Homo sapiens: one gene and its partner. The protein of the gene in region 2 interacts with the protein of the main gene of each other region in a pairwise test. Each region holds a gene or a part of one and is shown on either strand. Other genes may lie near its edges.

Region 1 (7,375 bases), on a different chromosome or scaffold from region 2:
CTTGTTCACTCATCAGCCTGCTGATTACGATTTGGCTATTAGACTTGCATATGGGGATAAATCAGTGTTGGGTCTGGTAGTTTTATTTTTCAACATAAATTATTAATAATATGTTTCTGTTTTTAGACATTAGTCTCTGTGAGCTCTGTCACTGTGAGTCTGATCCACTCATGGTCTGCCTGGTGTTCTAAAGGTGACATCTGATGTCACTGCCCACCTTTTCCACAACTGCAACCAAGTCTTGTCTCCTTAAAAAAGAATAAGCTCAAGCAAGAGCCAAGACCAGTTATGAAGCATCATTTCTATCTTCGACAATGCTTAGCACAGTGCTAGCCATAAACTAAGCGTTCAAATATTTGCTGACTTCTGGAATCTGTCACCCTAAGAGCTGGCACATATGAATAGGTTCAAGGAGGGTTTTAAAAATTCCTGGATAACACATCCCCCGTGGACTATTATAGGAAGCCAGAGATCTGGGGCATATCACAAAGCCCACAGGGCCGCCAGCATGAAGAATGCTTCCACAAATGGGTGCCCATTGTCAGAGACAGAATACTGGGCTAGACGGGACCCCAATCCCTGCCAATGGAGCATTTCTTAGGCTCTCAAGACACAAAACGTCACATTGAAACGATTCTCAAACAAAGCTGGCAATGTTCAATGCCCTCCTGCTTTGAATTCTGGGCCCCTTTCCAAGGAGATTAAGAGCACAAAGGCCTGGGTCTGTGCAGAATACGCCACTACTGCCCGCCTCACTCGCCATCTACTGTTCCCAACCTAAGTGCCCACCTCACTCGCCATCTACTGTTCCCAACCTAAGTGCCCACCTCACTCGCCATCTCATGTTCCCAACCTAAGTGCCCACCTCACTCGCCATCTACTGTTCCCAACCTAAGTGCCCACCTCACTCGCCATCTCATGTTCCCAACCTAAGTGCCCACCTCACTCGCCATCTACTGTTCCCAACCTAAGTGCCCACCTCACTCGCCATCTCATGTTCCCAACCTAAGTGCCCACCTCACTCGCCATCTCATGTTCCCAACCTAAGTGGCGATATTCCTCCTGTATTTTCTGTGGAAAACCAAGCAGATTCAGTGAAGAAGGAATTAATGAAGAAATCATTTCCAACTAATGCGAGCAGCCCTACTGATAAGAGCTGGCAGTATTCCAACAAGATGCAAACACTACTTTTATAACACACCACTAATTATTCTCAATAACATAACCATTCTTTAAAACGGGACAAACTGCAAAGAGCAAATAGACAGTTAAATTGACAGGATTAAGAAGTAACTTGGGCCTGAAAACTGCTATTGCTAAAAAGCAACATGTTGCTATTGATCCACCCTTATTTAAAGCATGCCCTCAAATTTCACATCACTCAAGCTCTCTCTGGCCAGTGTCAACAAGAGGCCTCCCTCAGTTCCAGAAAGACCAGCCAGATCTCACAGGGAGAAAATGTTAGGGAATCTGCCTTCTGCCCATCTCAAAGTTTACGACTTCCCTGGAACTCCAGCAGATATGACCTATTCAGGTCTTCACAGAAGAAAACAAAGCCGTACAATGCACACAGAAGCCAATGCAGGCTGGAAGCTGGATAGACTGTAGTATTCCTGCACTTCTGCCCAGAGGCAAGCTAACTTTTAGTTGGATTTTCAATAAATTACTAAAGAGATTTCTTTTTCTCCCAGTGTTACTAGATAACAAACACACTCACAAATTTAAGTTTTACAAAATGAATGAATGTATTCCACAAAACAAGGGAACTTGGAGGGGTCAAGGCAACTTTGTTGAAGGAATGCCCATCAGTCTCTCTAGATTTTGAACCTGGCTGGTGGTAAGACAAACTAAACAGAGCTTTTCCCCAAGAGACTGTTTAACCCCCGATGAAGAAAAACACAAGTATCCCCATGTGAAAAGTCTCCAGAGGTTTGAAATCAAATTAAGTGGATTTGTTAGTGAATTGTGATTTTTCTCCTTTATTAAGTTTAAAGGGCTGCAAATACAAACTCACTGGAAAAGAGTAGCGTGGAGGTGGTAAGGGCGATCAATCAGATATGTGCATTAGAGGGTAATTTCCCAAAGCCTCTTCTCTAGGCTCTAAAACTAGGATCAAAGGGGAGAGGCGACAGGCAATTTGGGGCAAAGGCTCCCCACCACCCTGGCCATGTGGCTGTCATTGCCTAATATTATAAAGGTCTTCCAGGAAAGCAACCGTCTCCTAAAACCAGCTTCTGAAAACAGCATACAGGAAGATACATGTCTCAGAAAGTATCAACGTCCTTTCCTTAGCTCCTTCCAGTTCAGAGGTCACTGGGCAGGCGTGGCTTTGGGATGAAGATAAAATGAACTGCTCAGCATTTATTGCTCATGGCGGAAGCAGGTTTTAACATGTTCTGTCCTTCTCTAGATCACAAAGAGCCGACTGTTTTTGATTTGTTAATTCTTTTTCATTCATGACACATTCCCACTATCAAAGTGTGGCCTATGAGTGCTTTATTCCTCAAAAAAAATAAAATAAAAATAAAAATCTAAAGCCAATATTGTTTTATTTCATTAATTTCCCCTCCCCTGCCCATGAGCTGGAGATACTCAAAGAGCTTCAGAATCCAGTTACTGGCAATTACAGATCATAATGGTTCTCTGCCTCTGCAGACAACAGAGGTGACCAAAGCTTCAGGCCAGTCTTACAATCACTCTCCCAGGCTTTCCATGGTTGCTAGGGCAACTAATAAAGAACACCGATTTCTCTCCCTCCCCGCAATGTAAGCCTCAGGGAGGTGGGTCAAGCTGAGGGAAAAAAAAAATACTACTACTGGGATAGGGAGGGAGCTGGTGGATGCTGTATATTTCTATGACTGCTTTAAAAATAACATGAGTTGTATCCATTCCCTCCCCCAACTTTCATTTTTCTGGCCCCACCCACTCAGCCTGGCAGGCAGCTGAACCCTCAGCCATCTGGCATCCTAGCTTTAATGACACATGCTCTAATTTACATTAAACCATTAGAGCTGTCCATTTCAGCAGGAAAGTTCCTGCACTGGGTTAAGGGCTGGGTTCCCAGACAGAAATTAGGCAGAGGGAGACCCCTGTGGGGAGAACTGAGCATAGCTCCGACTCAGACTCCCAGGCTCCAAGGGTCAAAGGCTTCACTCCCTTCGCTGTACTTGACAGGGGCTATCCAGACAGCAGACAAGCAACTCTGGGCATACACCAACAACCCCTAAGTCAGCGTAAGGACAATTATGTGCACAGCTAAGAAAAGGCAAGTGTAATTAAAACCCATGTCTTCGGACGGGCGCGGTGGCTCACGCCTGTAATCCCAGCACTTTTGGAGGCTGAGGTGGGAGGATCACCTGAGATCAGGAGTTTGAGACCAGCCTGGGCAACATGTGAAACCCCATCTCTACTAAAAATACAAAAAAATTAGCTGGGTGTGGTAGCGCATGCCTGTAATCCCAGCTACTCAGGAGGCTGAGGCAGGAGAATTGCTTGAATCCAGAAAGAGGAGGTTGCAGTAAGCTGAGATTGTGCCATTGCACTCCAGCCTGGGTGACAGAGCGAGACTCTGTTTCAAAAAAAAAGAAAAACAAAACCAAAAAACCATGTCTTCGTTCAATTACAGTAAAACCTGACTCAGAATAATGAAGAACATTCTCCAAGTCAGAAAAAAAGTTTTACCACCTTTATGTCCAAATACACTCAATTCTACTACTGAAAACAGCACCAATTTAATTTTTATCAACAAGGCATGCTAACTAAAAACTAGAATGTAGGAAATTTTTTCTGAAGAGAGACTTTATTTTTAAAATTAGAACAGGACATGGGAATCTAACACTATCCAGCAACAGCAGAAGACTCTGGTCTAATATTTAGTCTTGGAGTAGGGGAGAAACAGCAGCAGCTGAGAGAAAGACAGGGTGACAGGAAAGACAGACAAAGGCGTTTTCATGAATTAATGCAATCTCATCTCATGTACTTTTAGGATACTATCTTGTTTTTTTTGAGACAAAGTTTTGCTTTTGTTGCCCAGGCTGGAGTGCAATGGCACCATCTCGGCTCACCGCAACCTCCACCTCCCGGGTTCAAGTGATTCTCCTGCCTCAGCCTCCCGAGTAGCTGGGATTACAGGCATGTGCCACCATGCCCGGCTAACTTTTGTATTTTTAGTAGAGACGGGATTTCTTCATGTTGGTCAGGCTGGTCTTGAACTCCTGACCTCAGCTCGCCTTGGCCTCCCAAAGTGCTAGGATTACAGGCGTGAGCCACTGCGCCCAGCCAGGATTACTACCATTAAGACCGAAAATTGGCTGGGCGCAGTGGCTCACGCCTGTAATCCCAACACTTTGGGAGGCCAAGGCAGGCGGATCACGAGGTCAGGAGATCGAGACCATCCTGGCTAACACGGTGAAAACCTATCTTTACTAAAAATGCAAAAAATTAGCTGGGCGTGGTGGCGGGCGCCTGTAGTCCCAGCTACTCCGGAGGCTGAGGCAGGAGAATGGCGTGAACCCAGGTGGTGGAGCCTGCAGTGAGCCGAGATCGTGCCACTGCACTCCAGCCTGGGGGACAGAGCAAGACTCTGTCTCAAAAAAAAAAAAAAAAAAAAAAAAAAAAAAAAAAGACTGAAAATTACAGCATGTTTTACACAAGTATAAGTGGGAACAGAACCTCCTGGTATTTTCCTTACAACCAGAAGTAATGTTTACATTAAACGTAAGAGTCTTTTAATAAATATAAGATTTGCTGGTCCCAGATGTCAAGGTAACATTAAAGAAACCCCTAATTTCTTCTAAGCTGTTGGTTTAGAAACTTACAAAAGCTTCTATCAGGAAACTGTATAGCCAGGAATACAGACCTTAAGAAGCTAATAATGTCAAGTGTGATAAGAAAGAAGTAAATTAACTTACCCTGAAGAGTTAAGGAAGGTCACTCTGAGAAAGGCCTTTGAACTGTGACTGGAGCCTAATGAAAAGATGGGAGTGAGGCTTGTGGGGTGGTGAGGGGCAGCGCCCAGCAGAAGGACCAGGAAGTGCAAAAGCTTGAAGGTGAGAGAACAGGACTTCCTTCAATTCAGTAGGAGGCTACTACTAAGAGGGGGAACCGGGTGAAGTGAGTCCCGCCTGGAGAACAAGTGAAGCAGGTGCCAGAGCATGGGTTATGTGGCCTTAGAGCCACATTAAGGGCTTAGGGCTGGGCGAGCCACGGTGCAACAACTAAATTCTTCTCATTTCAGGAGTCTGGTTTTACAGTACTTCCTATTCCTAGAAATCTGGATGGTGGGCTAAGTTCAAACATCTTATTTTAGTTTTGAGCAAATTCCTCAGTCCCTGCCATATTTAATTCTGTATGTCATTACTTATAAAGTACTAACTACAGTCATGCATTGCTTAAGGATGGGATTACGTTCTGAGAAATGCCTCATTAGGCAGTTCCATGGCTGTGTGAATATCAGAGTGTACTTACACAGACTTAGACAGTACAACATCCTACACACCCGGGCCATATGGTATAGCCTATTGCCCCTAGGCTACAATCTGTACAGCATACTACTGTACTGAATACTGTAGGCAACTGTAACATAATGGTACGTATTTGTGTGTCTAAACATAGAAAAGGTACAGTACTGTATAAACGATAAAAAGTGACACAACTGGATAGGGCACTGGCCATGAGTGGAGCATGCAGGACTGGAAGTTGCTCTGGGTTGAGTCAGTGAGTGAGTGGTGAGTGAATGTGAAGGCCTAGGACATTACTGAACACTTTGTAAACACAATACACTTATGCTACAATACATTTATTTTATTTAGTTATTTAGTTAGTGCTGGGATTACAGGCATGAGCCACTGTGCTTTAGTTATTTAGTTAGTGCTGGGATTACAGGCATGAGCCACTGTGCCTGGCCAGACTACACTAAATTTATTAAAAATATTTTTCTTTCATCAATAATAAATTAACCTTGGCTTACTGGAACTTTTTTACTTTATAAACTTTAAAAATTTTAAAAACTTTTAGACTATTTTGTAATAACACTTAGCTTAAAACACAATGTTCAACTGCACAAAAATATTTTCTTTCTATATATCTTTATTCCATAAGGTTTTTCCTATTTCTTTTTTTAACTTTTTAAACTTTTTTGTTAAAAACTAAGACACAAACACACACATGAGCCCAGGCCCGCACAGGGTCAGGATCATTAACATCAATCACAGTCTCCACCTCCACATGCTGTCCCACTGGAAGGTCTGCAAGAGCAATAACGCACATGGCGCTGTCATCTCCTATGACAACACTGCCTTCTTCTGAAATATCTCCTGAAGGACCTGCCTAAGGTTATTTTACAGTTAACTTTTTGTTCTTGTTGTTAAGTAGGAGTACATTCTAAAATTATGATAAGGCCAGGCACGGGAACTCATGCTTGTAATTCTAGCACTTTGGGAGGCTGAGGCAGGAGGACTGCTTGAGCATAGGAATTCAAGACCAGCCTGGGCAACATGGAGAAACCCCGTCTCTACAAAAATACAAAAATTAGTGAGGTGTGGTGGTGAGGGCCTGTAGTCCCAGCTACTTGGGAGGTTGAGGTGGGAGGATTGCTTGAGCCCAGGAGATGGAGACTGCAGTGAGCCCTGATTGCACTACTGCATTCCAGCCTGGGCAACAGCAAGACCTTGTCTCAGAAAAATAAAATACAATAAAATAATGATAAAGAGTATAGTAAATACATAAGCCAGTAACATAGTCATTTATCATCAAGTGTTAGGCACTGAACATCATTGTATATGCTATACTTTTACATGACTGGCAGTGCAGTAGGTTGGTTTACACCTACTCACAAACACGAGTAATGCATTTGACTTAACGAACAACTATTATGTCACTAAGCGACAGGAATTTTTCAGCTCCATGATAATCTTATGGCACCACTGTCATGTGTAAGGTCTGTCGTTGACTGAAACGCCATCATGTGGTGCATGACTACATATACTGTAACTCTGTTGCTAAGGACTTTATATACAGCTTCATTGAATCTTCATAACCGTGAGAAATAGACGAGAAAACTGAATGGTTAAGGACATAGCTAAGATCACACAACTGGAACACAGCACAGCCAGGATGCAAATCCAAGGTGTCTGACCACGCCCTAGCATTGAGGTTTTTCGGTAAGGTACTGTTCTTCTGCTTAAGGAACCTGCAGTCCAGTGGACGATCTACAATAGAAAACTGCCAGCCACAGGCACACCCATGAGGCTTAACTCAAGTTCTCAATGAAAAGAATGTTTAAGTTGAGATTGGAAGGATGAGATGGAGGGGAGGGGCTGTGAGCTTCAGAGAGTCAAATAAATTGCCGGTGTGACAAACACTAACGAACAAGCCA
Region 2 (7,750 bases):
TGAGACTCCGTCTCAAAAAAAAAAAAAAAAAAAAAAAAAAAGATAAGCAGATCTCTGTACAAAACACAGAAAAGTTTTACTCAAAAGATACATGGATAATCTGGGAGGAAAAAGCAAGTTCTAAAACACTGAGTGTGGTGCAATTCTATTTTAGTAAAATAAAAACAAAGTGGCCAGGTGTGATGGCTCATGCCTGTAATCCCAGCACTTTGGAAGGCCCAGGTGGGAGGACTGCTTGAGGCCAGAACTTCAAAACCAGCCTGGTCAACATGGTGAGCCCCATCTCAATATTTTAAAGAAAAAAAAAACAAACGTGTTTTTTAATATATAAAATTTTAAAAATAAAAAGAAAGTATCTGATATTCCTGACACTCCCATGTATGGAGCACTAACCTACACCTTTTATTTCCCCAGAAGCCATTCAACACCTTATCTCATCTAACCTCGACCCACAGCCCCATGAGGAAGATCCCATTCCCACCCCCATTCCGAAGAGGGAACTGGGCTTCAGAGAGCTATGGAGCTTGGATGAGGGGGACTGGGATCAGACTGAGCTTGGTCCCTCACAAAATCCCTTCTCCAACCACTCTTTCATCCACGAGACAACGACCTGTGCCCAGCGGTGCTACTGAGTGCCCGTTATTTCCCACTGGCCACTTCTGGAAATTGAGATTAAAGTGACTTGATTTCTCAGTCACACTGTTTTGCCATATTTGGTCATTTTTACCACAAGGCTGCACTGTATTTAAATCAGAAAAATAAAATAAAGAAGCTTCAAAGATAAAGAAAATTTTATTGGCCGGGCGTGGTGGCTCACGCCTGTAATCCCAGCACTTTGGGAGGCTGAGGTGGGTGGATCACGAGGTCAGGAGATTGAGACCATCCTGGCTAACACGGTGAAACCCTACTAAACTCTACTAAAAATACAAAAAATTAGCCAGGCCTGGTGGCGGGCACCTGTAGTCCCAGCTACTCAGGAGGCTGAGGCAGGAGAATGGCGTGAACCTGGGAGGCGGAGCTTGTAGTGAGCCAAGATCGTGCCACTGCACTCCAGCCTGGGCGACATAGCGAGACTCCGTCTCAAAAAAAAAATTTTATTTAAAACTGGGAAAACAAGACAGTGATCTGGAAAACACAAAAATGATTCAGACCCAGAACATATCATGCAGTCTGTGATCTTGGGGTGGCCTAGCAGGGTGAACCTCCCATCCCCTCCTCAGCACCCCTGTCCCCATCAGGAGGCTCCCTGTCTGCTATTCCCTGGTCCTCCAGAGCAACTTACCGCTTATAGGGGTCATAGGTGGGGCTGTCTCGGCGGGCATAGCTACAGAGAAAAGAATGGGGTGGGACAAATTAGGGCTTAAGATCTCAGCAGTCATGAATTTGGGATAAGCCCGCCAACCTGAGGACCCAAAGCTAGGTACCTGGCACAGTGAGGGGGCTGCTGACCAGGTTGGGGGCCTCCCCTTAATTCCTCCACCCACCCCCACCTCAGATCTGTCCAAAGCATGAACTTAAGCCCCACCCTACAATGTCCTAGACCCATCATGACTCTGAGGAACTTGGACTTCAGCAGCTCTGGTTCTGCTTGGCCTCCTGACCCTAGAATGAAAGCATCCCTCCTCCCAATCCTTGTCTCTGGCTCTCACTGGGTCCGGGCTTACTAATGATGATGATGATGATGATGATGATAAGATTAAAATAGGCTGGGTGCGGTGGCTCACGCCTGTAATCCCAGCACTCTGGGAGGCTGAGGTGGGAGGATCACTTGAACCCAGGAGTTTGAGACCAGCCTGGGCAACACCGCAAAACCCCATCTCTACTAAGTATTTTTTATTTTAATTAGCTGGGCGTGGTGACGCATACCAGTAATCTCAGCTACTAAGGAGACTGAGGTAGGAGGATCGCCTAAGCCTAGGAATTTGAGGCTGCAGTGAGTCGTGATTACACCACTGCACTCCAGCCTGGGTGACAGAATAAGACCCTGTCTCTGGGGGAAGAAAAAAAAAAGAGAGACTATCACAGCTGAGGAAACTGAGGCCCAGAGAGGTGAAGTCACTTGTCCAGCATTACGTAGCTCATAAAGGAGGAAACTGGGATCCAAACCCAGGCCCTATGGCCACCCAGCCTGGGCGTTCCTGCACTACCCTCTGTGTGCCTCTGTGCCACCGCTGACAGCAATGACGATTGGTGCTATTCTTTAAGGAATGTTTCCGATACCAACCGCTGAACCTACAAGTTGTTTAAGCCTTACAGGAACTCTCAGTCACTCTCCTTTAAGAGATGTGGCAAAAAGAGGCATGGGTTTGCACAGGGCCTCTCCTCAAGGCCTCCTGACCCAGGCTGGGCTTTCCTCTCCAAGCCAGCCTGCCTCATCCAAACCTGTCCCAAGACCTCCCTGTGGGGACTGCCCAGCCCTCTCTCCAGGTAGGTGATAATGCCTTGTTTTCCAAAGGAAAAAATTGAAGCTCAGAGAGTTCGGGAAGTCACTTGTCCAAACTCCGACACAGGAAGAAGCCAAGCAGCAGAACTGGGTGAGAGTCCAGGGCAAAGCCTGTGCCCTCTCTGCCGCCTTGGTGAGAGCCTTATGCCGCCTGTGCATGGGCTCCTGGGAGTCTGGCAAGGGCCCCCAGTCCAGTAGGGTGAGGGGAGGGGCTGGCAAGGAAAGGAGTCCACATGGCCCTCAAGGCCGTTCCTACCTCTAAACCTTCACGATGGCCATGCATCGCCCCACTAGAAAGACTCCTTTCTCAAGTCAAATGCCTGCCTCCAAAGAGCTTTCTCAGGCCCTAAGCCCCTGCTCTCCTCCCCCAGATGCCAGCAGGGTGGGGGTTCAGGGAGAAGCCCTACCTGGGTGGGCTGATCTTGCGACCCCTCAGCCGCTTCTCCCGAAACTCTCTCCGCTGGCGTCGAGAGCGGCGTCCCTGGAGTAGGGTGGGTGCCAGGTTGGTGAGGGGGTGCCCTCCCTGTGACACACCCCTGTCCCCTTCCACTCCAGCCCAGACCTCACCGAGTACATGGCCTTCTCCTCCTCAAGAGCCTTGGCATGCTTGATGGCCTCTGCCTCCTCCTTGTCTTTCCGGAGCATCCTATAGAGGTGGGTGAGAATTAGGGTGGAGGATGGGGCAGGCCACAGGGTAAGGAGGACACAGACTGAGTCATCAGAGAAAGTGAGGGACCTGAGTCACCCCACGCCAGCCTGAGGTATCTTTCATTCAATGCCACTTATCAAGCACCCTCTGTGTGCCAGGTGCTATCTTAGGTATCAAGAACTGAGCACTGAAAAAAAAAAACAGAAATCCTCACCTGCACGGGCTTACATTCTAGGGGAGAAGATAATGAGCAAGGGAATAAAATGTGTGGTCCATTAGATGGTAGAGCAAAGGCAGAGGAAGCTGCAGTTTTCAAGAGGGAGCTCAGGGAAGCCACACAAAACAGGGTATCTAGAGAAAAACCTGGGGGAGCAAGCTGCAGACGTCCAAAGCGAACAGCAGACAGAGTGGCCCAGGGGCTGGCCCAGGCCTCTGCACTTGAGGAGCAAGGAGACTGTGCAGGCTGGGCAGCGGGGGATGGTGGCGGTTGAGAGGACCAGATGGGTAAGACCTTTCGGCCATGGTGAGGACACTGGATGTTCCTGAGGGAGGTGGGAGCCACAAAGGGCTCTGGGCAGAGGGTGCCATGCTCAGGCTCCGTTTCTGGTTCACTGCCCAGTGAGCTGGGACCATTCTGTGTGGTCTTGTGAGCTCAGCAGGGGGTGTGGCTCAGGGTAGAGGTACAACCAGCAACTGCCAGGATAAATAACCAGGGAATGAAGCCTCTCCACTAGAGGGCGCTGTCCCCCAGCCTAGGAATCCCCAGAGCTTCGAAGAGTCAGATTCGCCCCAGGTCGCACTAAGTAGGGCAGGCTGGGTGACTTGGGTGCAGCCTGTTTCTGCACAGATGAAGTGGGGCCACGACCACCATAGGCTCAGGGACCTGCATGTGTAAAGTCCTGGGCCCAGGGCCAGGCACACAAATGCTCACAAACAGGATGGCTGTCAATACCGGGAGTAATAGTGAGATGCCAGGGTGGGGCCCACAGAATGGGTAGGGGTGTCAGCAGGCAGGCCTCACCTGACGAAGTCACCGTCGGCCATGCCATAAGTCGTGGCCTGTTTGTTGAGATCTGCCACCTGCTCCTGGTTCAATTCATCCACGTCCACCTCCACGTCTGCACCAAGAGAAAGGCTGTCAGGAGCCACGGCCGAGCGAGAGGACAGGGGAGAAGGGGCAGTGCTCCAGGAGGCGGGGATGATGGGGCGCCCGCCAGACTGAGGGATTCTTCAGGAAGGGATGGCATCAAGTCTGGCTCATCTTGGCATGCCCTAGGCTGGCACTGGGCTTGCCAGAGGTGAGCACAACACACAGTGGACAGAGGCAGCTCGGGGACAGGGCTTGAAGGGGCAGATGAACGGAGGGAGGGAAAGAGAAGGGAGAGATGGACGGATGGGTGCAGGGATGGATGAAGGGATGCAGGGATGGATGGATGGATGAATGGAATGGAGGCAAGGAAGGAAGGAGGGATGGGTGGATGGAGGGAGGGAGGAATGGATGAGTGAGGCGTGTGGTGGGGTTGACGTGAGAGGGAGGACTGAACAGGGGCGGAAAGATGGCGGCTGGAGATCACGGTGGGTGGCAGGCAGGGTGTGGGTCACAGGTGTTTGGAAGCAGGGCGTGTGATAAGCCAGAGGAAGGAGGGCTGGGCGGAGGTCAATGTGTGGCTCCACAGAGTGTGAATAAAGAGCCAGCTACTGGGCTGAGCGCGGTGGCTCACGTCTGTAATCCCAGCACTTTGGGAGGCCGAGGCAAGTGGATCACGAGGTCAGGAGTTCAAGACCAGCCTGACCAATATGGTGAAACCCCCGTCTCTACTAAAAGTACAAAAATTAGCTGGGCGTGGTGGCGTGTGCCTTTAGTCTCAGCTACTTGGGAAGCTGAGGCAGGAGAATCACTTGAACCCAGGAGGTGGAGGTTGCAGTGAGCCAAGATCATGCCACTGCACTCCAGCCCGGTAACAGAGCAAGACTCCATCTCAAAAATAAATAAATAAATAAATAAAAAGAGCCAGTTGCTGGAGTAAGAACCAGGATGAGAAAAACAGAGAGACTTGGGGGTGGTTTGATCAGTGGGAATCCAGAGGGGAGGTGAATGGCAGAGAGGAGGGTGAACAGATGCCTGGCGGATGGGGGCTGACTCTGTAAGAGGATGAACACTTGTTTTCCAGAGGAGGGAAGAGAGCAGGAGAGAGGGGCAAAGGCAGAGAGAGGCCGGCCCAAGTGGAGGAGAATGGAGCCAACACCTAGGAGGGGAAAAGATCATAGAAATAGCACCCTAGAAATGAGAGATGAGTGAGGCAGAGGAAGGCCGGAACGGAGGAGGACAGGAGTGAGACAGGGGCAGCAGGAGGCTGGTGTGCCCTGGGGCGGGGTAGGGAGAGAGACACGGTTCGTAAGCACGGGGTGCCCCACAGAGGGTGAGGGACGAGACACAGAAACGATGCCCAGGGACTGCAGGTGGGGAGGGCAGAGAGGGGACCCCACCGATGTCGGGGATGACCTCATCTTCGTCCGAGTTGCTCTCCTCCTCGGCCGCTGACTCCTCCTCCTCTGGCTTTTCTGCCGCCTTCTCTACCTCGGCCACCGTGCTGTCCTCGTAGGTATAACCGATGGAAGCCTTCTTCTCTGCCAGCCTGAGAAAGGGGAGCTGGTAAGCCAGGGCCGTGCCCAGTGGAGATGAGGGCCCCAGGCTAGCCCCACACACCAGTCTCGAGTGCCACGGCCCCCTCCCCTCAGGCTCTCCCTCAGCCTAGGACCCTCTGCTCCTGCCCACACCCAGCTCCTCCCTCTTCCTCCACATCTGAGCTCTAGGGCCCCACCTGCCAAGAAGTCCTTGACTGGTACCCTAGGGTGGGTCAGCACTGTCCTGAGCTCCCCAGCCCTGCCTTTGTTGGGTCATCTCTGTTGGGGAAGGTCTGTCTCCCGCCTAGACCATGAGTCCCACAAGGGCACAGCCCAGAGTCCTCCTGAGCAGCCAGGTGCCCCAGCTTTGCCCTGAACAGAGCAGGGCCTGAGCAGGATCCTGAGGCTGGGGCCGTGGACGAGGGCTGAAGTCTCCAAGAAGCTCCCAGTACAGTCCCATGGGACCCCTCCCAGTGGAGGAAGGCGGCAAGCAGTCAGGGGTAGCAGGAGGGAAGGTGTCACTGAGGGAGCTGCCCAGCCCCGAGCCAGGGCTCCAGGCTACCGTGCACCAGGGCAACAGCAGCTGGCCTGGAGGAGAGCTAAGCCCTGCAGAGGGAATAGCGTGTGTGAGGGCGGGAGGCCTGCACTCATCAGACTGAGGTGGAGAAGAGAGAAGTGAGACTGCTCGGCCACTGCTCCTCAGAGGCAGCTGCTCCAGGATAAGGCCCGGGTCTCCCCAGCTACTCCTTGAGGGACGCGGCTTTAAGAAGCCTCTCTCCAGAGTGACATCAGCTAGGGCTGACTGCAAGCTCACTACATGGCAGGTGCTGGAATAGGTACTTCACAAGCCCCATCTCCTGCATGCCTCCCAACTCCAGGCAGTAGGGCCTCCTGCCAGCCCCATTTTACAGGGAAGCACAGCAAGGCTCAGACAATTCCCACTCAGGGCCTCACAGCCAGGACTCAAACCCAGGGCTGTCTCACCACAGGGCCTGCACCTCCCACCACTTCCCAAGCTGAAAATGTAACGCAGAGCCCTCGGCAAGCCGGGGCCCCCTGACAGGGCTTCTTCCTCTACACAGTTATTAATTGAGCACTGACTGTGTGCTGAACACCATCCTTGGTTTCGGGGAGACCCTGGTGGACAGGATGGAAGAGGCCATGCCTGGCTGGGGCTCCCAGCCCTCCTGCCTCCTCAACCCCCTGCACCCCAGACCCCGACTCACTTCTTCTTCTCATCTTCGCTGGGTCTCTGGAGGCCTCCGTACAACTCATCAATGTAGATCTGGTACAGGCACTGCTCCTCTGAGACTGCAGCAAACAAGAGACCCCAGGTCAGAGTGGGTTGGGGACACTAGGAATTCAGTGGGGGAACACAAGGGTGCGGTGGGGCAGGAAGACAGGTGCAACCCCAGTGCACCTTGGGGGGCAGTCACCACTTCCAGATAATCAAACTATGTCTGGTGGGACACAAGCAACTGCAGCAGAGCCTTGGACACACGACCTTGGTCAAGGGACTTAACACATCTGTGCCTCAGTTTCCTTTTCCGTAAAATGGGACCACGGGCAGAGTGAGTGCCTGGCCTGGTACTTGGGCACTCTACCACCATTCTCACTGTTTCTGGAGGCCTCTGGCTGGACCCTTCAGAACCATAACCTGCTCCTGAGTGCCACACGCCATTCTGACTGCACAGGTCACTCCACTGCATGCCTCTCTGTGGCTCATTTTAAGTTAGGTGTGGGCTGGGATGACCTGGGCTCTCCTGCACCCCCAACACCCAGCCTGGGGGACTCAACAATGTACCAGAGCCTTCCTGATCTTCCCTGCAGTGAGACACGTGTCCCTGACTCGCTGTGGGACAGTGGGTTGTAAGTCCCCTTCCTTCCTTCCCTCCCTAGGCCTCAGTTTTTCTTTTCTTATTTTTTTAAGACAGAGTTTCACTCTTGTTGCACAGGCTGGAGTGCAATGGCGCGATCTTGGCTCACCGCAACCTCCGCCTCCCAGGTTCAAGCGATTCTCCTGCCTCAGCCTC

What was found.
Region 1: the proteins of CLASRP (region 2) and CFAP20 interact in binary tests that used the Homo sapiens proteins (3 or more experiments, as listed by UniProt).

What each region holds. Positions count from the first base shown.
Region 1 is NC_000016.10:58,119,007-58,126,381, forward strand, and holds part of CFAP20 (cilia- and flagella-associated protein 20), read right to left. Parts: intron 1-7,375. UniProt on the Homo sapiens protein: Cilium- and flagellum-specific protein that plays a role in axonemal structure organization and motility. Microtubule inner protein (MIP) part of the dynein-decorated doublet microtubules (DMTs) in cilia axoneme, which is required for motile cilia beating.
Region 2 is NC_000019.10:45,055,728-45,063,477, reverse strand, and holds part of CLASRP (CLK4-associating serine/arginine rich protein), read right to left. Parts: intron 7,029-7,750; coding exon 6,944-7,028; intron 5,729-6,943; coding exon 5,580-5,728; intron 4,211-5,579; coding exon 4,114-4,210; intron 3,090-4,113; coding exon 3,011-3,089; intron 2,925-3,010; coding exon 2,851-2,924; intron 1,325-2,850; coding exon 1,283-1,324; intron 1-1,282. UniProt on the Homo sapiens protein: Probably functions as an alternative splicing regulator. May regulate the mRNA splicing of genes such as CLK1. May act by regulating members of the CLK kinase family.